6 separate regions of the Homo sapiens genome follow, and all the other regions are reported to be linked to region 1. Evidence: microRNA targets listed by miRTarBase, many of them from high-throughput screens and not tested one by one. Region 1 holds a microRNA gene; each other region holds the end of a gene's coding sequence.
What was found. The annotated mature microRNA hsa-miR-6751-5p reads UUGGGGGUGAGGUUGGUGUCUGG and lies in region 1 at 1,411-1,433, opposite strand. An mRNA with a match to its seed (bases 2 to 7 or 8) in the 3' UTR can be bound and repressed. Matches are read on the target gene's strand: a 7mer-m8 pairs with bases 2 to 8, a 7mer-A1 pairs with bases 2 to 7 and ends in A, and an 8mer does both.

Region 2: miRTarBase lists ASB16 as a target of hsa-miR-6751-5p. The part of its 3' UTR that is shown has no 7-base or 8-base seed match.
Region 3: miRTarBase lists HOXA7 as a target of hsa-miR-6751-5p. Seed matches in the 3' UTR shown: 7mer-m8 at 1,926-1,932, 8mer at 2,025-2,032, 8mer at 2,100-2,107 and 7mer-m8 at 2,496-2,502.
Region 4: miRTarBase lists PLD3 as a target of hsa-miR-6751-5p. Seed matches in the 3' UTR shown: 7mer-m8 at 3,847-3,853, 7mer-A1 at 3,789-3,795 and 7mer-m8 at 3,744-3,750.
Region 5: the mRNA of ZNF251 is a reported target of hsa-miR-6751-5p. Seed matches in the 3' UTR shown: 7mer-m8 at 3,669-3,675.
Region 6: miRTarBase lists ZC3H12D as a target of hsa-miR-6751-5p. Seed matches in the 3' UTR shown: 7mer-m8 at 1,848-1,854.

The regions. Positions count from the first base shown.
Region 1 is chr11:65,128,541-65,132,540 of GRCh38, forward strand. It overlaps MIR6751 (microRNA 6751), which reads right to left and starts at 1,438; the gene lies at 1,376-1,438. SYVN1 (synoviolin 1) reads right to left here. Exons shown (of 16, transcript NM_172230.3): 6 at 3,708-3,811; 7 at 2,930-3,056; 8 at 2,734-2,833; 9 at 2,592-2,657; 10 at 2,380-2,496; 11 at 2,120-2,283; 12 at 1,711-1,839; 13 at 1,462-1,635; 14 at 1,189-1,375; 15 at 23-174. RefSeq lists an enhancer at 3,810-3,859.
Region 2 is chr17:44,177,563-44,182,545 of GRCh38, reverse strand. It overlaps ASB16 (ankyrin repeat and SOCS box containing 16), which reads right to left. Exons shown (of 5, transcript NM_080863.5): 4 at 4,824-4,937; 5 at 3,462-4,341. The coding sequence ends at 4,156. ASB16-AS1 (ASB16 antisense RNA 1) reads left to right here. Exons shown (of 3, transcript NR_049730.1): 2 at 826-923. Among named protein-coding and RNA genes, the nearest start is that of ASB16-AS1, 6.7 kb to the left of the region's middle.
Region 3 is chr7:27,151,695-27,156,677 of GRCh38, reverse strand. It overlaps HOXA7 (homeobox A7), which reads left to right and starts at 3. Exons shown (of 2, transcript NM_006896.4): 1 at 3-511; 2 at 1,456-2,962. The coding sequence starts at 133. The coding sequence ends at 1,769. It overlaps HOXA3 (homeobox A3), which reads left to right and starts at 4,095. Exons shown (of 6, transcript NM_153631.3): 1 at 4,095-4,390. HOXA-AS3 (HOXA cluster antisense RNA 3) reads right to left here. Exons shown (of 3, transcript NR_038832.1): 3 at 750-4,384. RefSeq lists an enhancer at 1,575-2,159.
Region 4 is chr19:40,377,191-40,382,173 of GRCh38, reverse strand. It overlaps PLD3 (phospholipase D family member 3), which reads right to left. Exons shown (of 13, transcript NM_012268.4): 12 at 4,289-4,388; 13 at 3,689-4,188. The coding sequence ends at 4,001. HIPK4 (homeodomain interacting protein kinase 4) reads left to right here. Exons shown (of 4, transcript NM_144685.5): 3 at 1,006-1,851; 4 at 2,405-2,903. The coding sequence ends at 2,587. Among named protein-coding and RNA genes, the nearest start is that of MIR6796, 9.8 kb to the right of the region's middle.
Region 5 is chr8:144,717,500-144,722,482 of GRCh38, forward strand. ZNF251 (zinc finger protein 251) reads right to left here. Exons shown (of 5, transcript NM_138367.2): 5 at 3,410-4,983. The coding sequence ends at 4,145. Among named protein-coding and RNA genes, the nearest start is that of ARHGAP39, 34 kb to the left of the region's middle.
Region 6 is chr6:149,446,836-149,451,818 of GRCh38, reverse strand. It overlaps ZC3H12D (zinc finger CCCH-type containing 12D), which reads left to right. Exons shown (of 6, transcript NM_207360.3): 6 at 340-4,983. The coding sequence ends at 1,136. Among named protein-coding and RNA genes, the nearest start is that of ZC3H12D, 36 kb to the left of the region's middle. RefSeq lists enhancers at 1-100, 101-652.

The DNA of each region.
Region 1 (4,000 bases):
GCTGGAGGCCAATCACACCTACCTGGAGGCCTTTCCATTTCAGGGGCTGGTGGGGAGGCTCCTGGGGTTGGGGTCGTGGCCTCTGAGCTAGGGATGCTGGTGGAGGAGGCAGCAGCAACAACTGTAGTGGCAGTCTCCTCAGTGGAGTTGACTGAAGTGGCAGGCCGGGGGGGCCTGGGAAGAGAAGGGACGAGAGGCGGGCCTGGCCTTGGCATCCAAGGTTGGGCAGATTCTCCTGCCCTTGGTGAGCCTTGCAGAACAGAGTATAGAATGATGTGCCCTTGTGGCCCCAGTGCCTGGCAAACACAAGTGAACATGCTGAATGAACTCAGACAGGGTGACTGGACTCAAGGGCCAAATGATTCTATCCCTTAGCTGTAAGGTGCTTGCAGGCAGGGACTGTTGACCTGTTCACTCTTACCCTGCAGTCTCCACCCTGGGGAGTCAGGCACCTTATAGGGGACTCACTCAATAAGCCACAGTGCTCGAGCCTTGGACTCAAGTTCCTCTCCAAGCCTGTGCTGTCACTGCTAGATGCCAGGCATTATGTACATGTCACTTTTTTAAAAGACAGCGTCTCGGCTCTGTCACCAAAGCTGGAATTTAGTGGCACAATCATAGCTCACTGCACCCTCAAATTCCTAGGCTCAAACAATCCTCCTGCCTCAGCCTTCCAAAGTGCTGATTATAGGTGTGTATCTGGCAGTACACATCACTTATGAATATGAATTAAGACCCCTTTATTCAAATAATGAGAGGTCAAAAATGAGTGATGGGACCAGCGCTTGAACTTGAGCCAGGATGGCTCCAAGTGACTTCCTATTATTCGCTCCCTCAGTTTGGGGGCAGCAATTGCCAATCTAAGTGTCACCACATCTCAGAAGAATATCATGTGATGAACTAAAGCACTGCAAATTCTGAATAATTTGACTTTAGAAAAATATAAAGGAATAAGATCTAAAGTCAGCTCTCGAATAAACATCACTCCTACTTAGATCCAGACATGCTTTCTGGAGTGGGAAATAAAGGCACCAGGAGTTACCAAGAACTCCTGGAGACCCTTGGTGGGCCTGTAGATAGGCAGCCTGAATTGGCAGGTGTCAAAGGCCAAGAACCACTGCTGGGGACCTCTTGGCAGCTCCACTCCTGACCCACCAAACCCACTCTGCTTCCCCTGTACAGACACACCCCAAGGAGGCCAGCACGGTGAGGTACTGGTTGATCTGCAGCATGGCGGCGTCCAGCAGTGTGTGGATGTTACGCAGGCTCTGCAGCCGGGCCTCCAGGTGCTGCCGCTCATGGCCCTCCAGAGCTCGTAGCTCCTCTGGGGTCAGCCCAGCAAAGCCCGCAGGGGGCACAGGCATTGGGGGGAAGGCTGGAGAGAGAGAGGCTCAGTCTGGGCTGCTGGGGCCAGACACCAACCTCACCCCCAAGAAGAACCCAGAGAGTGGCCCAGCTTACCAAAGGGTGGAGGCAGGGGCATACCCATCCAGGGAGGAGGGAAGGGGAAACCAGGGGCAGGGCCAGCCTCTGGGGCAGAGCCAGAGCCTGGGCCAGATGCTGTGGCAGAAGCAGCAGTAGCACTGGTGCCAGCAGCTGTGGTTGTAGCTGCTCCACTGGGCCGAGAAAGGGCTGCTGAAGAGCAGGAACGAAGTCAGTGAGTGTTCCATCCCTGCCGCCCCCTGGCTGTCACAGTACCCAAAGGCTCACCTGCACTGGTGGATGGAGGAGCCACAGCCTCTCCTGAGCTGGGGGGAGGCGGGACAGGTGGAAAGGGGCCCATGGGGGGCCACAGTGGGAACATGCCTGGAGGAAAAGGAGGCAGGAGGCCCTGGGGGACTGCAGAGAGAAGACGGAGGTAAGGAAAGGGCCAAATGGACACAGACCCAACTCCCAGGCAGGGGGCCTGGCTATTGAGAGCTCTGTCCTATTCCCACAGGCCCTCAGCCCAGCACTGGTCACACTGACTGCAAGCATCTATTTCTCATCTTTTAATCCCTCCCTGGCCCAGACTGAGATTCTGGAGGGCAGGGACTCTCCAATTTCCCAGCATCTTCCACATCCAGCCCAGGGCAAGTATCCAGTGGTATGCCGGGTGGCCAGACAAGGGGATACTCACAGTTGGGGGGCTGAGGCAAGAGTGGTGGGGGGTGGGGGGCAGGGGGTGGCCCCTGATCCGCAGGCTCCGGGGGTGGTGGTGACTGCGCTGGCAGCGATGCACGAAGGACATCCATACGGCAGGTGGGGCAGGTCTGCTGCCGCTGGAACCAGGAGCGCAGGCAGCTGCGGGTCAAGGCCAGGCAGAGGTCAGCAGGTCCCTAGGGGCCTGCCTTCTGGGGCCTGTGCCCTGCTGTGCAGGCTCCCCAGGGCCCCTCCCACCTGGTATGGAAAATGTGGTTGCAGGGCAGTCTCTTGGCACCAGTCACCATCTCTTCTCGGCAGATGATGCAGACATTGTCCATTGCCTGGAGCTCCTCTGGGGTGGCATCTGGATACCTGGTTAGGATGACAGGGGCTGTATCAGGTCCAGAGCTGGAAGCAGAGGGACCCAGGACCGAGCTTGGGACAGCAGCCATGACAAGCCTACTTACAGGGTGTTCATGTTGCGGATGGCTCGGCGAGACATGATGGCATCTGTCACAGCTTTCTTGAACTGTCTGAAAGGACAGTCAGTGAAAGCAGGAGAAGGGACGGGATCAGGTCAGGAGGATCGGGGGACAGGGCCGGGCTCACCTCATGGCCAGGTACATGGGCCGGATGGCAAAGAGTGGGAAGGTGTGCACCTTGATCATGATGGTCATGAAGGCCATGTACAGCAGAACCTTGATGAAGCCTGAGGGGAGGGGATGCAGAAAGCAGCAGGTCACAGGGCCAGGAGGCAGAGTGGAGGATGCTGGTCCAGATCAGGAGAGGCCCAGGCCCCTCTCACCTGTAAACAGCTCTGTGTAGAGCATGTACACAGCCTTGTTGTCCCAGGGGTTCTCACTCTGGAGGTCCACGGAGTGCAGCACATACTTGATGAAGATGGTGAGCACCATCGTCATCAGGATGGCATACTGAAGGGAGAGGGGGACGAGGGGGATGTAAACACATAGCTCCCCCTTGCTGCACCCACATTGCTCCCCAAGGCCTCTGCACAGCAGGTGCAGTGGTACAATCACAGGCTCTAGACACACCCAGGGTCCTCCTAGCCCCTCCACTTACTAGCTGTGACTTTTGGCAACTCAGTGAACCTCAGTTTACTTATCTATAAAATGACATAATTAACTGTTCCTTTATAACAGTATTGTCTTGCTGAATAAGAGATGCAGGTCAGGAGCTCAGCATAGGGCCTGGTGTGAAATTCGCACTCAACAAATATGAGCTGTTGTCACTGAACACATTCTCTCTCTGCCAGGGACACGCCTCCAGTTGTCCATGGAACTAATCCTCTCCTGTCCATTACCAGCTAGCTCCGGCACGAGCCTCCAGGAACCCTCTCCTGAGCCCCAGGTTGGGGCTCCTCCTCTGTCCTAGCCTCTTTGTGCGTCTCCCCAGTCACCTAGGAGTGAGCGTGTGGAGGGCAGGAGCCATATCTGATCACTGCCCCTTGGTGGCCAGCACAGGTTGGCCACATAGCAGGTGCTGAGGAAGGGTCTGTTGGGTTATTCAAGGCACATGTGGGGTCACCTCGGGCTTGTCCTCTCAACCTCCCAAGCCAGTTTTACCTCAAAGCCAAACACCAGCTGCACAGAGGCCCCACGGGTCAGGATGCTGTGATAGGCGTGGCTGACGAAGAGGAAGTCCAGGATGCCCAGGAGGAACATAAGAGCTGTGGGGACCCCCACACATGCAGGGTGGGGGGGTCAGCCCAGGGCCCAACAGCTGTTTAATGCTCTAGGACAGCCCCACCCTCAAGCCCACCATGGCCCCAGCGATCTAGTCAGGTGGGCACACTCCACTGAACCTGGCCCTCTGGGAACTTCCTGGGGGAGGGGGAGTTGTTGGGGCTGCCCAGGCT
Region 2 (4,983 bases), not on the chromosome of region 1:
ATCCTCCTGCCTCAGCCTCCCTTGTAGGTGGGACTACACGGCACCTGGCCCTTGTGTTGTTCTTGTAACAGTTGCTCAATGCAGAAAACTTGGAAACCACAGAACAGCACCAGGGGGTGGGGAATGAACATGGAATGATGGGGACCTCTGTCCCATTTAAGTCAAACAACATCCATACTTTGGTTCCATGGACTAATCATTTATTTGCACTCATAAAAACTGGCTTGCTTTGAAAAGCTTCCTCCAAAAGCTGTATTGTGGTACTTTTGACTCTGGGACAAGAGGAAGAAGTTGGGGAATTCGGGCAGTTGGTGGCTGGGCCCTCAGAGACTGTATGTGGTGACCACTGTTTAAGACACCATTCATCACTTGGGGACGGAGGGAGCACATAGATGGACCCCAGGCTCATGGATGTTCCTCCTTCCGCAGTCATTTACTAAAATACCTGTTCAAGGAATATAGTTCCAGTCTCAGCCTAGTTGAGACAACCACAGGCACTTAAATAAGTACCAAGGAAGCCTCTGCAGAGATAGTGCTATTGGAACTGAGTCCTGAGGGCCAGATCAGCCTTGACCAGGCCAAAAAATGTGGAAGAGTATTCCAAGCGGTAGGAATAACACATGCAAACACCTGAAAGCAAAGAGGAGCAGGTCACATCCAGCAACTGGTGACTTGTTTACTAAGGCTGGAGATGAACCTTGGAAGGAAGAAGGGAAGTCAAGAGGCCAGATAATTTGGCAGAGGCTAGAGGCTCTGTTCTACTGAGTTGTTTTCTCGTTTGTTTTGTTTTGTTTTTTGAGACAGAGTTTTGCTCTTGTCACCCAGGCTGGAATGCAATAGCGTGGTCTTGGCTCACTGCAACCTCCGCCTCCCGGGTTCAAGCAATTCTCCTGCCTCAGCCTCCTAAGTAGCTGGGACTACAGGTATGCGCCACCACGCTTGCTTGGCTTTTTTTTTTTTTTTTTTTTTTTTAACCCTGAGTGGACACAGCACATGTTTCAGAGAGCACAGGGTTGGGGGTAAGGTCACAGATCAACAGGATCCCAAGGCAGAGGAATTTTTCTTAGTGCAGAACAAAATGAAAAGTCTCCCATGTCTACTTCTTTCTACACAGACACGGCAACCATCCGATTTCTCAATCTTTTCCCCACCTTTCCCGCCTTTCTATTCCACAAAGCCGCCATTGTCATCCTGGCCCGTTCTCAATGAGCTGTTGGGCACACCTCCCAGACGGGGTGGTGGCCGGGCAGAGGGGCTCCTCACTTCCCAGTAGGGGCGGCCGGGCAGAGGCGCCCCTCACCTCCCGGACGGGGCGGCTGGCCAGGCAGGGGGGCCGACCCCCCCCCACCTCCCTCCCGGACAGGGCGGCTGGCCGGGCGGGGGGCTGACCCCCCACCTCCCTCCCGGACAGGGCGGCTGGCCGGGCGGGGGGCTGACCCCCCCACCTCCCTCCCGGACAGGGCGGCTGGCCGGGCGGGGGGCTGACCCCCCACCTCCCTCCCGGACAGGGCGGCTGGCCGGGCAGAGGGGCTCCTCACTTCCCAGTAGGGGCGGCTGGGCAGAGGCGCCCCTCACCTCCCAGACGGGGCGGCTGGCCGGGCGGAGGGCTGACCCCCCACACCTCCCTCCCGGACGGGGCGGCTGGCCAGGCGGGGGGCTGACCCCCCTACCTCCCTCCCGGACGGGGCGGCTGGCCGGGTGGGGGGGCTGACCCCCCCATCTCCCTCGCGGACGGGGTGGCTGGCCGGGCTGAGGGGCTCCTCACTTCCCAGTAGGGGCGGCCGGGCAGAGGCGCCCCTCACCTCCCGGACGGGGCGGCTGGCCGGGCGGGGGGCTGACCCCCCCACCTCCCTCCCGGACGGCACGGCTGGCCAGGCGGGGGGCTGACCCCCCCACCTCCCTCCCGGATGGCACGGCTGGCCGGGCGGGGGGGCTGACCCCCCACCTCCCTCCCGGATGGGGCGGCTGGCCGGGCGGGGGGCTGACCCCCCCCCCACCTCCCTCCCGGATGGGGTGGCTGCCCGGCGGAGACGCTCCTCACTTCCCAGATGGGGTGGCTGCCGGGCGGAGAGGCTCCTCACTTCTCAGACGGGGTGGTTGCCAGGCAGAGGGTCTCCTCACTTCTCAGACGGGGCGGCCGTGCAGAGACGCTCCTCACCTCCCAGACGGGGTCTCGGCCGGGCAGAGGCGCTCCTCACATCCCAGATGGGGCGGCGGGGCAGAGGCGCTCCCCACATCTCAGACGATGGGCGGCCGGGCAGAGACGCTCCTCACTTCCTAGATGTGATGGCGGCTGGGAAGAGGCGCTCCTCACTTCCTAGATGGGATGGCGGCCGGGCGGAGACGCTCCTCACTTTCCAGACTGGGCAGCCAGGCAGAGGGGCTCCTCACATCCCAGACGATGGGCGGCCAGGCAGAGACGCTCCTCACTTCCCAGACGGGGTGGCAGCCGGGCAGAGGCTGCAATCTCGGCACTTTGGGAGGCCAAGGCAGGCGGCTGCTCCTTGCCCTCGGGCCCCGCGGGGCCCGTCCGCTCCTCCAGCCGCTGCCTCCCGGGCGGCGCTCGCCGGCGCGGCGGCAAAGACTGAGACAGCTCCGCTGCCCGCTGAACTCCATCCTCCCGGCGGTCGGGCGGCGGCGGCTGCGGTCGGTCGCGGCAGCGGCTCCGCTTCATATCTGCAGCTGGGGCCCGCGGGCGTCAGCGCCGCGACTGTCCCAGTCCGCACTGCCCCGGGCCGCAGCGCAGCCGCGCCAACCACCACCCGCGGCCACCATGGCCAGACGGGCTCCCTAAGCCACCGACCCCAGCCCGCGGTGCCTTCGAGCCTTCTGGGGCCTCCGGCGCCGCGACCTCCTCTGCGCTCCTCACGGAAGACTTTTTTTTTTTTTTTTTTTTAAGACGGAGTCCCGCTCTGTTGCCCAGGCTGGAGTACAGCGGTGCGCGATCTTGGCTCATTGCAACCTCCACCTCCCAGGTTCAAGTGATTCTCCTGCTTCAACCTCCTGAGTAGCTGAGATTACAGGCATCCGCCACTATGCCCGGCTAATTTTTGTATTTTTAGTAGAGACAGGGTTTCACCATGTTGGCCAGGCTGGTCTAGAACTCCTGACCTCGTGATCCGCCCACCTCGGCCTCCCAAAGTGCTGGGATTACAGGCATGAACCACTGCGCCTGGCCTAATTTTTTGTATTTTTAGTAGAGACAGGGTTTTACCATGTTGGTCAGGTTGGTCTCAAACTCCTGACCTCAGGTGATCCTCCCGCCTCAGTCTCCCAAAGTGCTGGGATTACAGGTGTAAGCCACTGCACTCAGCTTGTTTTAAAGAGTTTTGATTTTAGTGTGAGAGGAGCCACTGGAGGGCATGATCAGAGTTTGACTCCCAAAGACCATTCCAGCACCAATTCAGGGCATGGGTCTCAAGATCTCCCTTGGAGTGACAAAGGCAGGGCAGGCAAGCCAGTGCACGCAGAGACAGAGTTTGTCCCTCTTTAGGAGGCTGAACAGGTATAAGGGTGGCAGGAGAGGGAGGTGGTGGGCCACTAGAATCACTGGTTCTTGGCATGGGACCTGGATGGATAGAGGGGCCATCCACTTAAACACAGGAGGAGAAGGGAGGTGAAGGCCGAGTCTGGGAACAGGCCGAGTCTGCAGCCCTTCCTGCTGGAGAGAGGGTCTGAAGCTCAGGTCCGGCTAGAGGTCAGCAGGTGTCTCAAGAAGCCCATGGAGGAGTGAGGTGGACCAGGACAGCACGTGGAGTACAGAAAAGAGGGGCAGGCAACCAGGCGCAGTGGCTCATGCCTGTAATCCCAACACTTTGGGAGGCCAAGGCGGGTGGATCACCTGAGGTCAGTGTGAGACCAGCCTGGCCAACATGGTGAGACCCTGTCTCTACTAAAAATACAAAATCAGCCAGGTGTGGTGACTCATGCCTGTAGTCCCAGCTACTCGGAAGTTTGGGGCACAAGAATCGCTTGAACCTAGGTGGTAGAAGTTGCAGTGAGCCGAGATAGCGCCACTGCACTCCAGCCTGGGCAACAGAGTGAGACTAGGTCTCAAAAAGAAAAGAAAAGAGGGCCAGGAACTGGTCCTCCGCAGTTGGAGGCGGGGACAGGTGGGAGGGGCAGAACACACCATGGGACAGCCTGACATGGGGTTCACTGGATGCACCCCTCCACACGCAGCAGCAGGTAGTCCCTGAGGAGCGGGGGCAGTGGCAGCCGGGTGGCACCCTGCCGGCAGCGGCTTCCCAACCGAGCGCGCACAGCTAGTCGGGCCAGGTGCTGCAGCTGCCTTGGCTGGTTCACCATGCACAGGGCCGAGCTGTAGAAGGCTTCGTGCTCCTAGGCCAGGAGTGAAAGAAGGTCAGATGACCCTTGCCCTACCATCTGGGGGCAACCCAGCGGTGGGGGTCCTGGGATTTTGCAGCATGCACCCACCTGGGTGTTTCATGTGTCTCAAAGGACTCAGATTCAGAACCATAGAGGCCCTGCAGTGATAATGCGGGCTGGGGCTCCACTTCAGGGAAGGGTCTCCACTATGTCTATACCACTCCCACCCCAGAGAGCCTAGCACAGTGCCCACCAAGTTAAGAGATGCCAGATAAATGTCTGTGCTGATGCAAGTGAGGGAGGCAGGAGAGGTGTGTGGAGTTAGGGGTCAGCCTGGGGTACCGGGGGAGGGGGTACCCTGAAACCCAGGGGTGCCACTCTACCCATCCTCTCTACCCAGGGGCCCTCCTGCTGCTCCCTCCATGAGGCTGGTCCTGAAGGAATAGGCCTGTGGCTCGTCCCTCCTCCCCATCTCGGCCCTGAGGCAAACATACCTTCCACAGCTCTGGGAGCACCGCCTCCACCCAGGTCTCACAGGATGGGACACAAGGATAGGCATTAAGCAGGACTTCCAGGGCCCGAGGGAAGTTGGCGCAGTGTTTCAGCATCTAGGGGTCAAAAGAGGGTCTTGGGCACATGCCTCCCCCACCCGAG
Region 3 (4,983 bases), not on the chromosome of region 1:
GTGCTGCGGCGAGCTCCGTCCAAAAGAAAATGGGGTTTGGTGTAAATCTGGGGGTGTAATGTTATCATATATCACTCTACCTCGTAAAACCGACACTGAAAGCTGCCGGACAACAAATCACAGGTCAAAATTATGAGTTCTTCGTATTATGTGAACGCGCTTTTTAGCAAATATACGGCGGGGGCTTCTCTGTTCCAAAATGCCGAGCCGACTTCTTGCTCCTTTGCTCCCAACTCACAGAGAAGCGGCTACGGGGCGGGCGCCGGCGCCTTCGCCTCGACCGTTCCGGGCTTATACAATGTCAACAGCCCCCTTTATCAGAGCCCCTTTGCGTCCGGCTACGGCCTGGGCGCCGACGCCTACGGCAACCTGCCCTGCGCCTCCTACGACCAAAACATCCCCGGGCTCTGCAGTGACCTCGCCAAAGGCGCCTGCGACAAGACGGACGAGGGCGCGCTGCATGGCGCGGCTGAGGCCAATTTCCGCATCTACCCCTGGATGCGGTCTTCAGGTAGGCGCAGTCGCTAGGCGGGCCAGGCTGGCGGAGCGGGACCGGGAGCGGGGAGCGCAGCGCTGGGGAGCGCGGAGCGCGGGGCGCGGGGCCGGAAGAGCGGAGCCAGGCTGTTGCGAGCCGGTAGCCCCGTGACTCCCGGCGCAGCCTTTCTGGTTTTAATTGGAGCGGAGGCGCCATTGCGTGGAGCCCATAGCATTGTATGTAAATGAGGCTCATAAAACTTTTTATGGCCCAATTAATGGGTTCGATCCTCGTAAATTTATTTAACTCCATTTGTCTTGGAATTTTAACATTAAGTTTGTTCGCTATTCTGTCTCTCTTTCTCCCTCCTCTGTCACCCTCCCTCCCTTTCTTCTTCTCTCTCTCCTCATTTTCCTTGCTGCCTGACATTTCTTTCTCAAAAGCTAGGAGAGCCAAGCCCTCCAGGGCCTCTCACCCGACCCTGTGCCAGGGTCCATTTCAAGATGGGGGCGAGGGAATGAGGACAGAGGGTCGGGGTGCCCTAGGAAGGTCCTGGGGATGAGGGCTCAGGCTGCTGGGAAGAGTCGCCCACTTGCCTAGCAAGGCAGGGGAATGGCCGGGCTCATCTTTGAATGGCAAAAGTGCAGCGTTTCCCACTTGCTCACACTCTATATTTACAGTTTTCCTTTGTCAGAGGAAGCAGGACATTGTGGAAGCTTAGCCGGCTGGAAAGGTCGGTTGTAAAGTTGAGATTCTGTGCCTTTGCTCATTACAGAGCTGCCTGCGCGTCTGGCACTGCAGTTGGGGTCTTTCCCTAACACTCCCCCTCCTCCCCTAGCTCAGTTCGGGGCCTGGGGCAGAGGGGGATGCTCGCTGGGGACTAGGCCAGGAGGAAGGTGCGGGCTCTGGGACAGCAGCCTAACGAGTGCCCTGTCTACTTGTCTGTCCTTGTGTTCATGTGTCTGCATGTCTGTTCTCAGGACCTGACAGGAAGCGGGGCCGCCAGACCTACACGCGCTACCAGACGCTGGAGCTGGAGAAGGAGTTCCACTTCAACCGCTACCTGACGCGGCGCCGCCGCATTGAAATCGCCCACGCGCTCTGCCTCACCGAGCGCCAGATTAAGATCTGGTTCCAGAACCGCCGCATGAAGTGGAAGAAAGAGCATAAGGACGAAGGTCCGACTGCCGCCGCAGCTCCCGAGGGCGCCGTGCCCTCTGCCGCCGCCACTGCTGCCGCGGACAAGGCCGACGAGGAGGACGATGATGAAGAAGAGGAAGACGAGGAGGAATGAGGGGCCGATCCGGGGCCCTCTCTGCACCGGACAGTCGGAAAAGCGTCTTTAAGAGACTCACTGGTTTTACTTACAAAAATGGGAAAAATAAAAGAAAATGTAAAAAACAAAAACAAAAACAAAAAAGCAACCCAGTCCCCAACCTGCACTCTACCCACCCCCATCACCTACTCCAGCTCCCAACTTTTGTGGACTGAGCGGCCGCAGAGACTGGGTCGCCTTGGATTCCCTCTGCCTCCGAGGACCCCAAAAGACACCCCCAACCCCAGGCCAGCCGGCCCTGCTCTGGCGCGTCCAAAATACTACCTAGCACAGGCCTCTGCTCGAGGCACCCCCAAACTACCTATGTATCCAGCCCCAGAGGGCCTCCATTCCCAGGAAGTCCCTATGTATCCCAACACTGGCAGACACCCAGCACCACCCTCCCAGACCCGCAAGAAAGTGAATCTCACTACTACCTACTCCCCTAAAACTACCTATTTTGTGCTGGCTGGCTTGCCTGCTACCTAGTGCCGACTGCTCCCAGGCAAGTCCCCTGCTGCTTACAGCCCGCAGCTTTTGGGGTCCCTGAGGCTGCCCTGAGAATGTGCTGAGGTCCAGGATCAGGGTATTGGCATCTATTTAAATCGAAAAATAATATATTTATTCCAAAAAGCATCCTAAGTGCTTGCACCCTAGAATCAATCCCTCCTTCTCTGGCTTGGCACCCACAGCTCAGGCCCATCAACCCCCACTTCTGGAGGGGAATGTTCCTGAGCTGGCTGCAGATCTGTGGGTTAGCTTCTGCTTAGCAGGACTGTGGAGATGCTTCCAGCTTCGCTGTCCTTTCCTCTGGCTCCTGTATCTTACTGTTCAGCTGTGTTAAATATGTACGCCCTGATGTTTCCTATAATAGCAGATACTGTATATTTGAACAAGATTTTTTTTTATCATTTCTATAGTCTTGGAGTTCATTTGTAAGGCAGTGTCTTGACTTGGAAAGGATGTGTTAATGGGGTGACTTTGTAGCATGGTATGTTGTCTTGAGTTAACTGTAGTGGGTGGGGAGGTCCAATGCCCTCCGCAATGCCCTTCATCTCCTGTGTTGTCCTGTACCCTGCTCAGCTCCATCCTGGGGTTCAGGGAAGGCACACTTCCCAGCCCAGCTGTGTTTTATGTAACCGAAAATAAAGATGCGTGGTGACAAAGAAAAATGTGGACTGCCTTATCCAGAGGGGACTGGGAAAGGGGAGGTGAGTATGGCTGGAGGGCAGGGGGCAGTGGGGAAGCAAAAGTGGGGTGGCTGTCCTTGTGATGGTCCAAGTGTTGGGTACCCATGTATTGGTGTCATGTATCTTTTTAATGTATTTTTATGTGTGTATTTGTATGAGTATGTGCTTATTTTTCTGTGTATGTATTTCTGTGTGTGTGTTTTTACCTAATTCCACAATTGTATATATTTTGGTGTCCATAATTGGGTGCATGTGTTTTTGTGTGTCCATAATTGCATGTCATTCTGTGCCCACAATAGAGTGTATGCCCTTCCCTGTGTGCATAATTGTATATGTGCCTTTATCCGTGTAGAGACGTTTGTCTGGTTTTTGCGTGTGCACTAACATCTTCTAGATCCCTTGAAAACGGAATCTTTGGTAGATACGTTATATTCTATGAATCTACCTAAAAACCTCCATCAATTCCATGAGGAAATTTCAAATCCACACTTTCCTCTAAGGCTGAGCAGTGGGCTTGGAAAGGGGCATTACCCAGAGCTGATTCCGGATTCGCATGCGCCCTGAACCCAGCCCCAGGCTAGGAAATGGGATTTAAGGTCCCCACCCCGCCTGCAGACCAGGCGAGGGGGCCCCAGGGTCCGGCACTGCAGTAGGTGGCGCGGGGAGGGGCTAGGACCGCAGACCCCCGCTAGGCTACGCAGCCTGGGCAGGGGCTGGGGCAGCTGGATGCGGGGAAGGGGCGAGGGGTGAAGGTCCAGGGGTTGTGCGGGCAGCTCAGAGCATCCTGAGTTCCGCCTGCAAGACCTCGTCTCCAGTCTCCTGCCTGGGCTGGGCCCGCTTCTTATGGCTCTTTTAGTAAAACCTGGCCCAAAAGGGTCTGTAAAACCTGAGGCCCCAAGTCGGGGCGGCCTCGGTGGTAAGATGGCGCCGGTGTAAGAGCTGCCTCCTCTCAGTGATGGGGAAAGGGTCATAAATCCGTTGTTGTTTATGAAAATTTACAACTTTGCAATACAACTTTATGAGTTGTTCGGCCCTTCCATTGGCCGCTGTCGGTCATGTGGATGAGAACCGTGAACATGAACTTTTTTATAATTTCCCTTGCGAGAATAGAGCCGCATTCTTTTGCTCCGCTCCGTCCTGCCTGCTTCGGAGCTCTGCCTTCCAGCCGGGCTCGGCTGTGCTTTGTCCGGAGATGGCGAGCGAAGGGAAGCCCCGGCCAGGCCAGGCCTGGCGGCTCCCGCTGGAGATTGGGCGCGCTCCGTTCCCGGCGCCGCGGCAGCAGCTTTGCAACTCGCAACCTGGCTAATTTCCTGCGTCCTCTGGCACCAGGAAAGAGGACAATTCTTCTCTCGGGCTGCCCAAGCGACAGCTGTCAGAGGGGCAGGAGCTTCTGGGAGCCACCGTCTGAAGGTGAGACATGTGGGGAGGAGATAGGAGCAAAGGTGGTGAGGCGACAGCCGGCGGCGGTAGCGGTGGGAGAGGGCACCCAGGGAGGCTTTAAGAGGGGCATACTCCCCCTTACCCATACTCACCCATTCACACTTGCCCCCATCACACACTACAGCCCACACACGTCACACACACAGGCACACACGCGCGCACGCACACACACACACACACCACTCCCTTTCTCTCCCCTCCCTGGCTCGCCTTGGCAGTAAGTGCCCGCCTTCCTTCGGCCCTCCGTGGCACAGCGCCAAGGCACAGGGCAGCATCCCTTGGGTCGTCTCTCTCCCCTTCCCTAGCGACCCCGTGAAGCCCAAAAGGAAGTGGCCCGGCACACTGTGTTCCCCGCCAGCCCTTTGGGTTTGGATTTTTGTGTTTTCATTCATGGCCCTATTTGGTTTTGTTGGATTCCCCAACAAGAGGAGACCATCCTTGACCTGGGAAGGTGGGAAGAGGTGAGGGCAAAGTGCATTAATCCACAGGCATTTTATTAGCATCAGCACAGCACTTTCTACTCCGTGGGAATTGGTTTCAGAGAGAAAGGTAGAAGGGGGAAA
Region 4 (4,983 bases), not on the chromosome of region 1:
CTATGATTGCACCACTACACCCCAGTCTGGGCGACACAGCAAGACCCTGTTTAAAAAAAAGGATCTAAGGCCAGGCACAGTGGCTCACACCTGTAATCCCAGCACTTTGGGAGGCCGAGGTGGGTGGATCACCTGAGGTCAGGAGTTCGAGAACAGCCTGGCCAACATGGTGAAACCCCATCTCTACTAAAAATACAAAAATTAGCTGGGCATGGTGGTGGACACCTGTAATTCCAGCTGCTCAGGAGGCTGAGGCAGGAGAATCGCTTGAACCTGGGAGGTGGAGGTTGCAGTGAGCCGAGATTGTACCACTGCACTCCAGCCTGGGCAACAAGAGTGAAACTCTGTCTCACACACATACAAAAAAAAAAAAAAAAAAAAAAAAAAAAGGATCTGAGTGAGACCTCAGGTGAGTCTAGAGGTTTGGGGCAGCAGCCAGTCTGCTACCTCTGTGGCTTTGCCCCTCCCATCTGTGCAGCAAGAGCCTGGGTTAGACAGCAGAGGGGACTAGGAGTTTGAGGTCATAGGTCTTGATTTCACAGCAAGAAGGGTCTGGATGGGACCACAGGTGAGACTAAAAGTCAATGGCAGTTTAATAGCAGGGGGTGACAAACTACTATAGCAAGAAGGGTCTGGGTTTGACCACCAGGAGGCCTGGGATCAAGTGTGGAGCTGTGGCAGTAAGAGGGACCTGGATTTGATTCCAGGGAGGACTAGAGATTCCGGGCAGCCCTTCTGCTAGCTGCTGGTAGGGGCTGCACCCATGGTGCTGAAGGGGACTGGAGGTCTGGGGCAAGGGGTGGAACTTGGGCCAGTGATTTGGGTTCGATTAGAGGGGCTTGGGTGTGACGGATCCAGGGTGGCCCTCCTAGCAGCCAGAGAGCTCCAAGGCAGATCATGGGCAGACCTGGAAGTCGGGGCTACATGTGGGTGCCACAGCAGGAGTGCCCAGGGCCCTAGCCCTGCACAATGGTCAACCCTGCCCCCTTCTCCATGCCCCGCCAGGTGCGCCCATTGGAGCGCCGCAAGTATATGCTCAAGTCGTTGGACCAGATTGAGACAGTGAATGGTGGCAGTGTGGCCAGTCGGCTAACCTTCCCTGACCGGGAGGCGCTGGCGGAGCACGCCGACCTCAAGAGCATGGTGGAGCTGATCAAGCGCATGCTGACCTGGGAGTCACACGAACGCATCAGCCCCAGTGCTGCCCTGCGCCACCCCTTCGTGTCCATGCAGCAGCTGCGCAGTGCCCACGAGACCACCCACTACTACCAGCTCTCGCTGCGCAGCTACCGCCTCTCGCTGCAAGTGGAGGGGAAGCCCCCCACGCCCGTCGTGGCCGCAGAAGATGGGACCCCCTACTACTGTCTGGCTGAGGAGAAGGAGGCTGCGGGTATGGGCAGTGTGGCCGGCAGCAGCCCCTTCTTCCGAGAGGAGAAGGCACCAGGTATGCAAAGAGCCATCGACCAGCTGGATGACCTGAGTCTGCAGGAGGCTGGGCATGGGCTGTGGGGTGAGACCTGCACCAATGCGGTCTCCGACATGATGGTCCCCCTCAAGGCAGCCATCACTGGCCACCATGTGCCCGACTCGGGCCCTGAGCCCATCCTGGCCTTCTACAGCAGCCGCCTGGCAGGCCGCCACAAGGCCCGCAAGCCACCTGCGGGTTCCAAGTCCGACTCCAACTTCAGCAACCTCATTCGGCTGAGCCAGGTCTCGCCTGAGGATGACAGGCCCTGCCGGGGCAGCAGCTGGGAGGAAGGAGAGCATCTCGGGGCCTCTGCTGAGCCACTGGCCATCCTGCAGCGAGATGAGGATGGGCCCAACATTGACAACATGACCATGGAAGCTGAGGTGAGCCGGGTGCGTTCAGGATACGATTAGGGTGGGAGGAGGCTCAGCACACACTCACCCGTGCTCAGGATATGATTAGTGTGTGAGGAGGCTCAACACACACTCACCCATGTTCAGGATACAATTAGGGACTTAGGAGGCTCAGCACACACCTAATACCGTCAAGATATGATAAGGCTCAGCACTTACTCAGCTACTTCCAGGCTGTGACAAAAACTCAGGGCACAGTAATCTACTTATAAGAAGCTTGATAAAGAGCCTGGGCAACATAGTGAGATCCCGTCTGCACCAAAAAATTAGAAATATTAGCTGGTTTTGGTGGCATGCACCTGTAGTCCCAGCTACTCAGGAGGCTGAGGTGGGAGGATCACTTGAGCCAGGGAGGTCGAGGCTGCAGTGAGCTGTCATCACATCACTACAAAGGGGCAATAAAGGCCCAGCACTGGTAAGACCCTAGCACATGCTCACCCTCATCAGGAGGAGGTGACAGAGGCTCAGCAGACACTAATACACTAACACTGCTTGGCTGATGCCCCTCTCTCTTCCCCCACAGAGGCCAGACCCTGAGCTCTTCGACCCCAGCAGCTGTCCTGGAGAATGGCTGAGTGAGCCAGACTGCACCCTGGAGAGCGTCAGGGGCCCACGGGCTCAGGGGCTCCCACCCCGCCGCTCCCACCAGCATGGTCCACCCCGGGGGGCCACCAGCTTCCTCCAGCATGTCACCGGGCACCACTGATGGTGATTCCACCCCTGCCCATCACTGGGGGCTGCGCTAGCTGGGCTGGCATTCCCTCCCAACCTGAACTGCTCCTCAGAGCCATCTCCTGAACCCACAAATTATTCTTACAGAAAGATAGTTATCCAGAAATTCTCATTCCCCGTCTGCGGTGCGGTGCGTGCCTGCACACCTCTCCTAAACACAGCAGGGCTTTGGAGTCTGGCCCATGCTCCTTGGCCAGAAGGACAGCAGGAAAGGGGGCTGCACCCCGCTGGCCCTGCGCTCGCCCTTGGCCCTGCTGCCTCTGTCTATTTCAATATAGAACTGTTCAGCAGTCCTGCTTCAAGCCTGCTCTCACTGCCTGGGGCTTGGACTGGCCCTGGGGGGAATGGGGGCTCCAGGCTGGCACCCAGTGACTTGCTCTGCGATGCTGGGCCCAGTTGACCACTGGCTTAGGCGGGAGCCTGGGCTGCTGTCACACTAGGAGGGAAAAGCTGTGCTTGGTTGACTAACCCTTGTCCTAAATACGCTATGTGCTTGGCGTGTTGGGAATCCACCCTCAGAACATGCTGTGTTCAGTATGTGTTAATCAAGTTTGCCGGATGCTGGGGTCTCCTTGTCTGTTGACCTGTCCTTCCTACATGTTTACAGGGTTGGCATGCACTCACCCACATTTGGGACGTGCTGGGTGTAAATCCACTTGGCAGGCCTAAATTCACACTTGGTGCACACTCTGGTGCTCAGCCATGCTTGTTCACCCTTGGGATGTGGCAATGGTTTGGTCCCTGCTGATCAATCTGGGAACATGCTTCTCTGCAGCACATACCCATGCTGGCTACATGAGTGCTAAGTCCATGCCGGGCCACAGGGTGGCACGCTGCATGCTCAGCACAGGTCAGCCCATGTACACTACATGTTAAGGGCTCAGCACATGCCAACCCATGCCAGCACATGCTGAGGGCTCAGTACATGCTAACCCACACTGGTCACACACTGAGGGCTCAGCACATGCCAGTGACATGTTGAGGGCTCAGCACAAAAAGATGTCCCCACCAGAGGCCCATGCCAGCTGTCCCCTACCCCTGCACCCCATCTCACACCACTCAGTCAGGCACAGGCTGTACAGACAAGTTATTTACTTATTATAACCCTGGGCCCTTTTTGCCCTGGAAAGTGGGGGTGGGCCAGGGGGCCAGGCCCAGCATGCACCCCCATTTCTTTGGGGGCTGATCCCTCCCCCAGCTCTGCTGGGTCCCGGGGCCACAGCGTCAGGCCGGTGGGGGTGGAGGTAGAGGTGGGAGAGCAGGGGAGAGAGCCTGAGGAGCCACAATGGGGCAGACAGAAGCGGGGGCGCGGGGACAGGGACCGTGACCCAGAGCACCTGGGTCCGCGGGGGCCCAGCAGGCCTTGGCCTGCCCACTGGATCGGGCCTCAGAGCAGGCGGCAGGCGTTGCCCACGCTGTCAGCTGAGGTGTCAAGGTCATGGCTGTAAGGGGAGTCCCAGTCCCTCAGGAAAATGGCCTCCAGCTGGCTCCGCAGGCCGCCCCTCCCATTCTGCGTCACCAGCAGCGAGGTGCCCGCCGTCTCCGTGAAGTAGTTGCCAGACCAGTTGGAGGTTCCTAGAGAGGAATGGGTGGAGCATAAGGGCACCCTCGGGGGGCCGCCCCTGGTGTCTGAACCCCCTCTTCTTCAGCGCCCCGTGGTGCTCAAGACACTCACCGATGTAGGTGGCGCGTTCAGTCACCATGTACTTGTTGTGGTTGACACGGGCATATGGGATTCGAGCCTGGGCCTCATCCGCGGGGACCACAAAGAGTTTCTGAGTGGGAGGGGAGGATGGGAAGGAGTGTGAGAGGCAGGGGGAGTCGGAGGAGCCCCGGGATCAGGGAGCAGAGTGTGGAGCGAGATCTGTGGGACTCCACTGCTTCCCACAGAATCCTCGGGGGCCAGAACAGGGCCAGGTGGAGGGGCCCTCTGAGAACGAAAGCTGAAAGGGAGGCCCCGGTGGTCTCATTTGCAAAACACTGTTCCCGGCAGAATGGCTCCTGTTCATTCCTGAGGTCTCATCTCAGATGCCCCCATTTCCAGAACATCTTCCTTGGCCCTTCCCGCTAGGGCAGAGGCTTCCTCTGGGCATCCCCACCCCAGCCCTGACCCCTCTGCCTGTGCCCCCCGACCCTGGCCCTGACCCCTCTGCCTGGGCCTCCTCCATCCCAGCCCTGACCCCTCTGCCTGTGCCCCCCCATCCCAGCCCTGACCCCTCTGCCTGTACCTCCTCCATCCCAGCCCTGACCCCTCTGCCTGTGCCCCCAACCCCAGCCCCGACCCCTCTACCTGCCCACTCCCCCAGTCCTGGTCCCAAACCCTCTCTCTGTGCCCCCCACCCCAGCCCTCACCCCTCTGCCTGGGCCTCC
Region 5 (4,983 bases), not on the chromosome of region 1:
ACACTTTTTAGTTTTAAAATATCTGATTCTAGATGTTTTTAGTATCTCCAGATGCTTGCTTGAGTATATTTACTTCTGTTGTGTTAGTTTTCTTCTGCTCCTTTGACTTCTAGTCACCTTGGACTCCCAGGACTCCAGCTCCATCTCCATCTCCTAAACTTGTAGAGACTGCCCAGCATCTCCTTATGCGCAGGTGGATTTTTTTCCTAGTCTGTCTTTATACAGGGGGTTCAACCCTTTGGGGTTCCAGCTTTAGACAGGGGCCCAGGTTCCAACCATCACCCTCAAGCCACCCAGGCCTGTCTTCATGGGGGCTGTAAACGAGCCCCAGAGCTGTCCTAGCATCAGTTTCCAGGTGGGAAGCTCTGACTTTCATTTCGGTCTTCATTTTTACCCCTGAGGTGTTCCCTTGCTCTCTTGGTGCTTAACCATGCATTGTCCTACTAACATCCTCAGTCCCAGGGTCCACAGCAAGTACGTGTCACAACAGCCCTTAGAGCCACCCACAAGCCCTCCCATGCCCCGGTGCTTCCTTCCATTCTACGTAAATGTGAGGCCTGTGGGCCTCTTAAGGGAGGCATCATTGTGGGACCTTTCCAGTAGATCAGAAGGAGAAAACAATTTTAATGTACCCAGTGTGCTCATGGACAGAGCAGAAGCAGAACACAAGGTTCACATTTACGCAAAGCACATTCTTGGCACTGTTTCCTTTCTCTGCCTCCTTCACCTCTCTTCCTTCCTTCCCAAGTACATCCTAAGCACCTGTTCTGTATCGTGTGCTGGAGATAAAAAGGTGCATAAGACAACATCTCTGACAGCAGAGAGTTCTCCGTATAATGTAGGGTAACGAGGTAGAAAGGAAAATGTAAGTTGAAATGGTGGGGATATGAATGTTGTGCTGTGGGATACAAGGGTAAAAGAGTTATTTTTTAGACGTGGGGGAGGTGTTTTTTTCCCCCATTTTAGAGCTGGAGAAAAAGAGACCCAAGAAGATTCAGTGTTTTCCCTGAGGTCAGAGTGAATCCATTTCAGAGGGAGACAGGACCCTCCAGGTGAGCCTGTGCTATCCACTCCCTCTTTTGTGTGGACCATTCCACATGGACCACACTAAGGCTGGCAATTCCCACACTTGGAAGAGGTTCTGTGATAAGAATTTTAATAATAAAGTGGGGGAGACAGAACCTGAGCGGGGGAATAAGCGCAGCAAATCACAGAATGGATGTTAAACCAAATGTAGCGGTGACCCCAAATTCCCTAAGAAAACAGTAAGGCCAGGCGCCGTGGCTCACGCCTGTAAGACCTGCACTTTGGAAGGGCAAGGTGGGTGGATCGCTTGACTCCAAGAGTTCAAGACCAGCCTGGGCAACATGGTGTGACACCATCTTTACAAAAAATTAAAAAATTATCTGGGTATGGTGGTGTGTGCCTGTAGTCCCAGCTACTTGGGAGCTGAGGTCGGAGGGTTGCTTGAGCCCAGGAAGTCAAGGCTGCAGTGACCTGTGATCGCTTCACTGCACTCCAGCCTGGGTGATAAGAGTGAGACACTGTCTCAAAAGAAAAAAAGAAAACAAAGATGGAATGAGAGATTAACTAAGGTAGGCTCCTTGAAGGGGGGAAATATTTCAGTTAGACCTGGAGGGAATGAAAGGTAGATTTGAAAAAAGATTCTTGGCCGGGCACGGTGGTTCATGCCTGTAATCCCAGCACTTTGGGAGGCCGAGGCGGGCGGATAACGAGGTCAGGAGATTGAGACCATCCTGGCTAACACAGTGAAACCCCGTCTCTACTAAAAAATACAAAAAATTAGCTGGGCGTGGTGGCGGGCGCCTGTAGTCCCAGCTACTTGGGAGGCTGAGGCAGGAGAATGGTGTGAACCCAGGAGGTGGAGCTTGCAGCGAGTAGAGATTGCGCCATTGCACTCCAGCCTGGGCGACAGAATGAGACTCCGTCTCAAAAAAAAAAAAAGAAAAGAAAAGAAAAGAAAAAAGATTCTTGCAGGTAGAGTCTCAGAATTGAAAATCAGAGGCCGGGCGTGGTGGCTCACACCTGTAATCCTAGCACTTTGGGAGGCTGAGGAGGGCGGATTATGGGGTCAGGAGTTTGAGACCACCCTGGCCAACATGGTGAAACCCCGTCTCTAAGAAAAATACAAAAATTAGCTGGGCGTGGTGGCACGCGTCTGTAGTCCCAGCTACTCGGGAGGCTGAGGCAGAAGAATCGCTTGAACCTGGGAGGCGGAGGTTGCAGTGAGTTGAGATCGTGCCACTGCACTCCAGCCTGGGTGACAACGCGAGACTTTGTTTCAGAAAAAAGGAGAAAAAAAAAAAGAATTGAAGATCAGAATTTCACAGGTGATCACACTCTGAGAAACTACTACAGTGTTATTCAAACTTCCCAATGAAACTCTTTAAATAGATGCTTACTGATCAAACCATGGTCAATAGGAGAATGCAAATTAAAACCATGGATACCACTACATCTCCACTAAAATAGCTAGAATATTAAAAAATGGACAATACTGCTGGGCACGTTGGCTTATGCCTGTAATCCCAGCGCTTTGGGAGGCTGAGGTGGGTGGATCACCTGAGGTCGGGAGTTGGAGACCAGCCTGACCAACATAGAGAAACCCCGTCTCTACTAAAAATACAAAATTAGCCGGGCGTGGTGGTGCATGCCTCTAATCCCAGCTTCTCAGGAGGCTGAGGCAGGAGAACCGTTTGAATTGAACCCGGGAGGCGGAGGTTGTGGTGAGCCGTGATCGCGCCATTGCACTCCAGCCTGGGCAACAAGAGCAAAACTCCGCCTCGGAAAAAAAAAAAAAAAAAAAAGGACAATACCAAGATCTGGTGAGGATTCAAAGCAACTAAACTCACACATCATCAGTGGGGATATACAACTGACTTTGTAAAAGTTTGGCAGTTTCTTAAAATGTTAAACATAAGCTTACCATATGACCCAGCAATCCCACTCCTATTTACCCAAGATAACTGAAAAGTTAGATTCACAAAACAGCCTGTAGTTGATACACAGTGATGGCAGCTTTAATCATAGTTGCCCATACTGAAAATGCCCAAATACCCTGCCATGGGTGAACGGATAAACAAATGGCTCCATCCATACAATGGAATGCTACTCGGTGCAAAAAAGCACTCTACACAGGCAATATGGATGACTCCAATGCATCATGTTCAGTAAAAGCAGCCACGTGCAAACAGCTGCACACTATTTCTGGAAATGGTGAGGTGATGGATAGAGGATAGAAAACAAACCAGTGGTTTCCACGGACTGGGGTTGAGGAGGGGTTAACCACAAGAGAGCACAAAGGAATTCTGGGTGGTGGTGAAGATGTTCAATGTCTGGAATGTGGTAGTGGCACAATTGTATGTTTTTGTCAAAGCCCAAAGAACTATACACTAAAAAGAGTAAATTTTATTGTTTATAAATTATGCTTCAATAAACCTGCCTTTAAAAAATTTTTTATCAGTAATTACAATTTTCAAAAGTGGAGATACTTGGTAGGCCCCTGCTTTCTTGGCCCCTAAGGTCCCTCTCTCTGTTAAACTGTAGAGCTCCTTAGAACCAAAACCAAACCACCTTTCATTTTAATGAAAATGAAATGCAAAAACTGGGGCTCCAAGCAAGGAAGAAACGTCTACCTGCAGTTCATCTGGGGGTTGGTGGGAGAGGTGGTGGAGAGAGTAAGGCTAAGCGCCCCCAGCAGGCCCAAGTTCTCTGTACCACACTTGGAGGCAGGTATATGGGACTGAAAGTGGATGTTCTCAGCCACAAGCCTGGGCCTGGATAGGAAACAAAGGATAAGACTGGAAGGATGTCAGGTAGGGTAGACCCAGAGCACCAGCTGGGCTCACTTTTCACGCCCTCCATCCATTCGTCATGAGTATCCGGATACAGCACCACACGGTTCAACTCCTGAGCACAGCAGTAACCTTTACACAGACAGCCTGATTTCCCAGAATGAATTCTCGTGTTTACTTCCAGATTTAATGACTTTGACTTTAGTAGTCATCTGAACTATTTATTTTACTTTGCCAGTAATATTTAGACCTTATATATCTTTCATTATGCCATCTTATCTTCTAATGTCAAGTGAACAGTTGCTAAACTGTCTTCTGCATTTATCACATTAAAAATGTCTTTCTTGGAAAATCTTCTTGATATGAATAAAGTATCTTTTAGAGCCATCATTTAAAGCAGGTTTCTCTCCAACACGAGTCTGCTGAGGTGGTGTGAGCTGTGAACTCTGGCTGAAGGCTTTCCCATACACACTGCAATGACATGGTTTCTGACCAGTGTGAGTTACCTGATGTTGAATAAGGGTTGACTTTCCACTGAAGGCGTTTCCACATTCTTGACATTTATAGGGCTTTTCCCCAGCATGCATTATCTGATCTTCAGTGGGTCGTGAGGTGGGACTGAAAGCTTTTCCATATTCATTACATCCAAAGGATTTCTCACCAGTGTGAACTGTCCAGCGCAGAATGAGATTTGCACCATGGTTAAAGGCTCTGCCGTGCTTCTCTCCAGTGGGAATCTGTCCATCTGCTGTGAGGCTGGAGCCATGAACAAAGGCTGGACCATGTTTTCTGCACTTACGAGTCTCTCCGCTGTGAACTTTCTGATGCTGAATGAGGGTTGACCTCCGGCTGAAGGCCTTCCCACAGTCACCACAGTCATAGGGCTTCTCTCCAGTGTGAACTCGCTGATGTAGGGTGAGCTGGGAGCTCTGGCTGAAAGCTTTCCCACATTCAACGCACTGGTAGGGCTTCTCCCCAGTGTGAACTCTTCGATGCTGAACAAGAGTGGAACTCCGACGAAAGGCTTTGCCGCACTCATTACAAACATAGGGTTTTTCTCCTGTGTGAATCCTTACGTGTTCAGTAAGATGAGAGTTAAAACCAAAGGCTCTGCCGCATTCATTACATACATAGGGTTTCTCTCCAGTATGAACCCGATGATGGAGGA
Region 6 (4,983 bases), not on the chromosome of region 1:
AGGCTGAAAGTCTTTGAATCCAGAGATTTGGTCTTAGTCCCTGGTCAAAGGGACCTGGGAACGACACTCCTCTGCATACCCTGGGATGAGTGTGCTCAGCGCCCCCTCACCCAGGCCGCCCGCGCCTCCCGGGCACTTCTCCCCACCTCGGCCCCGCGCCCAGATCTTGAGGCGTTTCCAGGGCGCTGAGTCTGAGGAGTCCGCGGCGGCCTGGGGGCCTGCTTGGAGGAATCTCCACGGAGAGGCCGCGGGCCGGCACTCCCCGGATGCACCAGGAACCACCGCCCCTCCGCGCCCCCGGGCCTCACGTCGCGCCCTCTCTGCCCCCGCCCCTTTCAGGCAAGAAATGCACCTATGGCATCAAGTGCAAGTTCTACCACCCGGAGAGGCCGCACCACGCGCAACTGGCGGTGGCCGACGAGCTCCGCGCCAAGACAGGGGCCCGGCCTGGCGCGGGCGCCGAGGAGCAGCGGCCACCGAGAGCCCCGGGCGGCTCCGCAGGAGCCCGGGCGGCCCCCCGGGAACCATTTGCGCACAGCCTCCCGCCGGCGCGGGGGTCCCCGGACCTGGCCGCCCTGCGAGGGAGCTTCTCTCGGCTGGCCTTCAGCGACGACCTGGGGCCCCTGGGGCCGCCTCTCCCGGTCCCCGCCTGCAGCCTCACGCCCCGACTGGGCGGGCCCGACTGGGTGTCCGCGGGCGGCCGGGTGCCAGGCCCGCTCAGCCTCCCTAGCCCGGAGAGCCAGTTCTCCCCGGGCGACCTCCCGCCTCCGCCCGGCCTGCAGCTCCAGCCGCGGGGCGAACACCGCCCTAGGGACCTGCACGGCGACTTGCTTTCCCCGCGCAGGCCACCCGACGACCCGTGGGCCCGTCCACCCCGCTCCGACCGCTTCCCTGGGCGCTCCGTCTGGGCGGAGCCGGCCTGGGGCGACGGCGCCACTGGGGGACTTTCAGTGTACGCGACCGAGGACGACGAGGGGGACGCGCGCGCCCGGGCTCGCATCGCGCTCTACAGCGTCTTCCCGCGTGACCAGGTGGACCGCGTGATGGCCGCGTTCCCGGAGCTCTCAGACCTCGCCAGGCTCATCCTCCTGGTACAGAGATGCCAGAGCGCGGGGGCGCCCCTGGGCAAGCCCTAAGGGACCAACACGCACTTGCAGGGAATGGCCCAGCCTCGCCTTGCGTCTTGGACGGGTGGACCTGTGGTTGCCAGCCTGGACCTGAGTGGGCCCATCATGGTGCCCCCTTTTCTTTAAAGATGGTCAGGGAAGCCTGCTTCCTCCTCCTGAGCGGGGTTGTGGGGGCCTGGTGGCACTTGGTGATCCTCACTGAGGCCGGGGCCTGCTGCGGGGAGGTCCACCCACTTCCGTGGAGGGAATGATTTTCCATGTGCACGGAGACTGCGGGTCCAAGCTGCAGTAGAACCCACAAGTGGGTCACAAAATCAATTTAGTGGGTCACCACCACAAACACAGTGGACTGGGACAGGGCAAAGCGCACCCTGTGCCATCAGGCTGAGTCTGAACTCTTGTTACCTATCCTGTGTCCCCACCCCCTTGGCAGCCATGTAACTAACCTCAATGTGGGTCGTAGTCAGAAGTTTAAAAAAGACTATGAATGCTCTTGAATTTCATTGCTTCAGGTAATGTTTGAAATATGTAGTCAGGTGGCCAGGGGAGGTTTGCTATCTGGAAGTTTTCATGTTAGCTATTGCTAACCCCACCCGCAAGGGCAGCCCAGCCTCCAGGTGTGGGCTCTCCTGTGCTCTGAATTGTGTGGCTGTCCTATGCTGGGGACAAGTGGTAGGAGCGCTTTGTCCCAGGGCCACCTTCTGGGGCCTTCACACACATACCCCCACCACACAAACACACACACACACACACACACACACACACAGTCTATCATACATGTACATACTCACACACACCACACAGACACATACTGTTTGGCTAAGGGTTAAGTATCTCCAATATTTTATTAGCCATCCATCATGGCAGTTTCCAGAATAGGCTTTCTACTGTACCAGCTGAGCTGCCTTCTTTTACTTCTTCTTCTTCTTCTTTTTTTAAACAGACAGAGTCTCGGCCCGGCATGGTGGCTCATGCCTGTAATCCCAGCACTTTGGAAGGCTGAGGCAGGCAGATCACTTGAGGTCAGGAGTTCGAGACCAGCCTGGCCAACATGGTGAAACCCTGTCTCTACTAAAAATACAAAAATTTAGCCAGGCATGGTGGCATACACCTGTAGTCCCAGCTACTCAGGAGGCTGAGGCAGGAGAATCACTTGAACCTGGGAGGCGGAGGTTGCAGTGAGTTGAGATCATGCCACTGCACTCCAGCCTGGGCAGCAGAGCGAGACTCCGTCTTAAAAAAAAAAAAAAGACAGAGTCTCACTCTGTCACTCTGTCTGGAGTATAGTAGTGTGATCATAGCTCACTGCAGCCTCAAACTCCTGGATTCAAGTGATCCCCCTGCCTCAGCCTCCTGAGTAACTGGGACTGTAAACATGACAGCCGCACTTCACAGTTACACTGGGGCTGGATGAGTCAGGACTTTTGCTCTCAAATCTACAGGTGGGTTAGGAGAAAACTGACATGAGCTCAGTCAGAGTTTATTGCCACCTTCCTGGTGCCGTTTCTTCTAGCCAGCTACTGCTCTGGGTTTGAGGAGAAAGGGCCTACTCATTTGCAATGGCTAAGAAGTGAGATGGTGCTGCCAGAGTGCCGACCCCCGAATCCTCAGGGGCCCTGGCCTCTCCTGGCAGCATCCACCCATTCTGGTTACCATGCCAGCCCTCCAGACTATGGCTCATTTGTTCACTAGAGGGCTTGGTAGCTTGGCAGTTTGGGGAAAGCGGGAGGCACTTCCCAGGGGAAGACCAGAGAAGACCAGCCCCCAGCCCCACAAACTTCCTGCAGCCTGCTGGTGCAGAGGGAACTCTTGCCAGTTTACTACCAGATTTCATGAGATGTTGGCAGGCCTGGGGGGCACCTCAGGGAGAGTGCGTTCCCAGCCCTTTCATTCATGGTAAATGACACCCCTGGGGCATACAGTGATGTTAGGTTTTTCTCTGAAACTTCTTTGATCTTTTAAAACCAGATTCTTAGCATGGATTGAGCCAGATCTGTTCCTTACCCCCTTTTTCCAAAGAGGACGGTGCACCCACAATTTTACCATAACATATTGGGATCTCAGGCCTGAAGATGACCCATTCTTTGTAAATAAGTTGGATTTTCCTCATAATATGTGTGGGTTTTTTTGGTGGGGGAGGAGGGGGCAGGGTTCCGCTCTGTCATCTGTCACCCAGGCTGGAGTGCAGTAGTGCAATCAGGGCTCACTGCAGCTTTGACTTCCCAGGCTCAAGCAATCCTTGTGCCTCAGCCTCCTGAGTAGCTGGGACTACAGTTGTGCCACCACGTCCAGCTAATTTTTTCTATTTTTTGTAAAGACCCAAAGCGTTGGGATTACAGGCATGAGCCACCTCAACGGGCCTTTATTTTTTTTATTTTAATTTTTATTATTATTATTTTTGAAACGGAGTCTCGCTCTGTCACCCAGGCTGGAGTGCAGTGGCGCAATCTTGGCTCACTACATGCTCCACTGCCTCCCAGGTTCATGCCATTCTCCTGCCTCAGCCTCCCAAGTAGCTGGGACTACAGGCGCCCGCCACCACATCTGGCTAACTTTTTGTATTTTTAGTAGAGATGGGGTTTCACCGTGTTAGCCAGGATGGTCTCGATCTCCTGACCTTGTGATCCCCGCCTCAGCCTCCCAAAGTGCTGGGATTATAGGCGTGAGCCACCGCGCCTGGCCCCGGGCCTTTATTTTTATTTTTAACCTTTTGACAAGACACGCTTTCTATTAGAGCTGCTTTTTGTCTCCCTGGTTCGATTTCCTGATGTAGAATCATTGTGTTGCTGATTTTTCAGTTGAAAATGTTTAAACTGCTTCCTTTGAGAACAAGTTTGAGTTTTAGTAAGCTGTAAAGCTGTTTTATTTGATTCACTGTGAATAAGACAAGTACAAAAAAAAAAGTGAAAACACAGCACATTTCAAGTGTAATCCCCTTTGGAATTTTTCCAAAGTCTTAGTATATGTCTTTGTGACAGAAAAACATAGATGGGACAGGTAAATGAAATGTTCCTAGTTGCATAGCTGTTAACCATGCTTCAAAAATAAATCATTTTTTACCACACCTGGATTCTTTATTGTCAAATTGTCTATTAGTTTCTCCTACTGGCTTTCCCCTAGATTGGTCTGTTCTGTTAAAAATTGTGGGTTTAGACTGGGCACGATGGCTCATGTCTGTAATCCCAGCACTTTGGTGGGCTTCATGAGTTCAGGAGTTCGAGACCAGCCTGGTCAACCTGGTGAGACCCTGTCTCTACTAAAAATACAAAAATTAGCTGGGTCCGTGGTGGGGCACACCTGTAATCCCAGTTGCTCGGGAGGCTGAGGCAGGAGAATCACCTTGAACCCAGGAGGCAGAGGTTGTAGTGAGCTGAGACTGTGCCACTGCGCTCTGCACTCCAGCCTGAGCGACAGAGTGAGACTCTGTCTCAAAAAACAAAAAAAAGTAGGCGTGAAGAAGACTGAGGTTGTGGCCAGTCTCAGCAGCCGCAGTTCTGTGTTGTTCCACCTGGGGGGATGTGAGGGGCTCAAATCCACCTTTTCCAGGAGAAGCAGTGAGGCCATGGCAAGGACCTCCCTTTGCTGGATGTGCAGCAGGCAGTTCCCAAGGACACAGGCTGCTTGCCCATTTCCTAGACTTCTAAAATCCTCATTATAGAACTATGAAGCCATCTCATAGAAGCTGCTCTTCTTGTTCAAACATGCAGCAGAGCTCTCCTCGACTGATCAAACCAGAGGCTGTTGCCATCTTGGGTTTGCCCTGAGGCAGCCTTCCCAGAGGCCTCTGGAAGGGGGTTTGGGGTAGAACTGTAGAATGTCAGGGGTTGAGGAGTAGAAGCAAGACAAGCCACTCTAA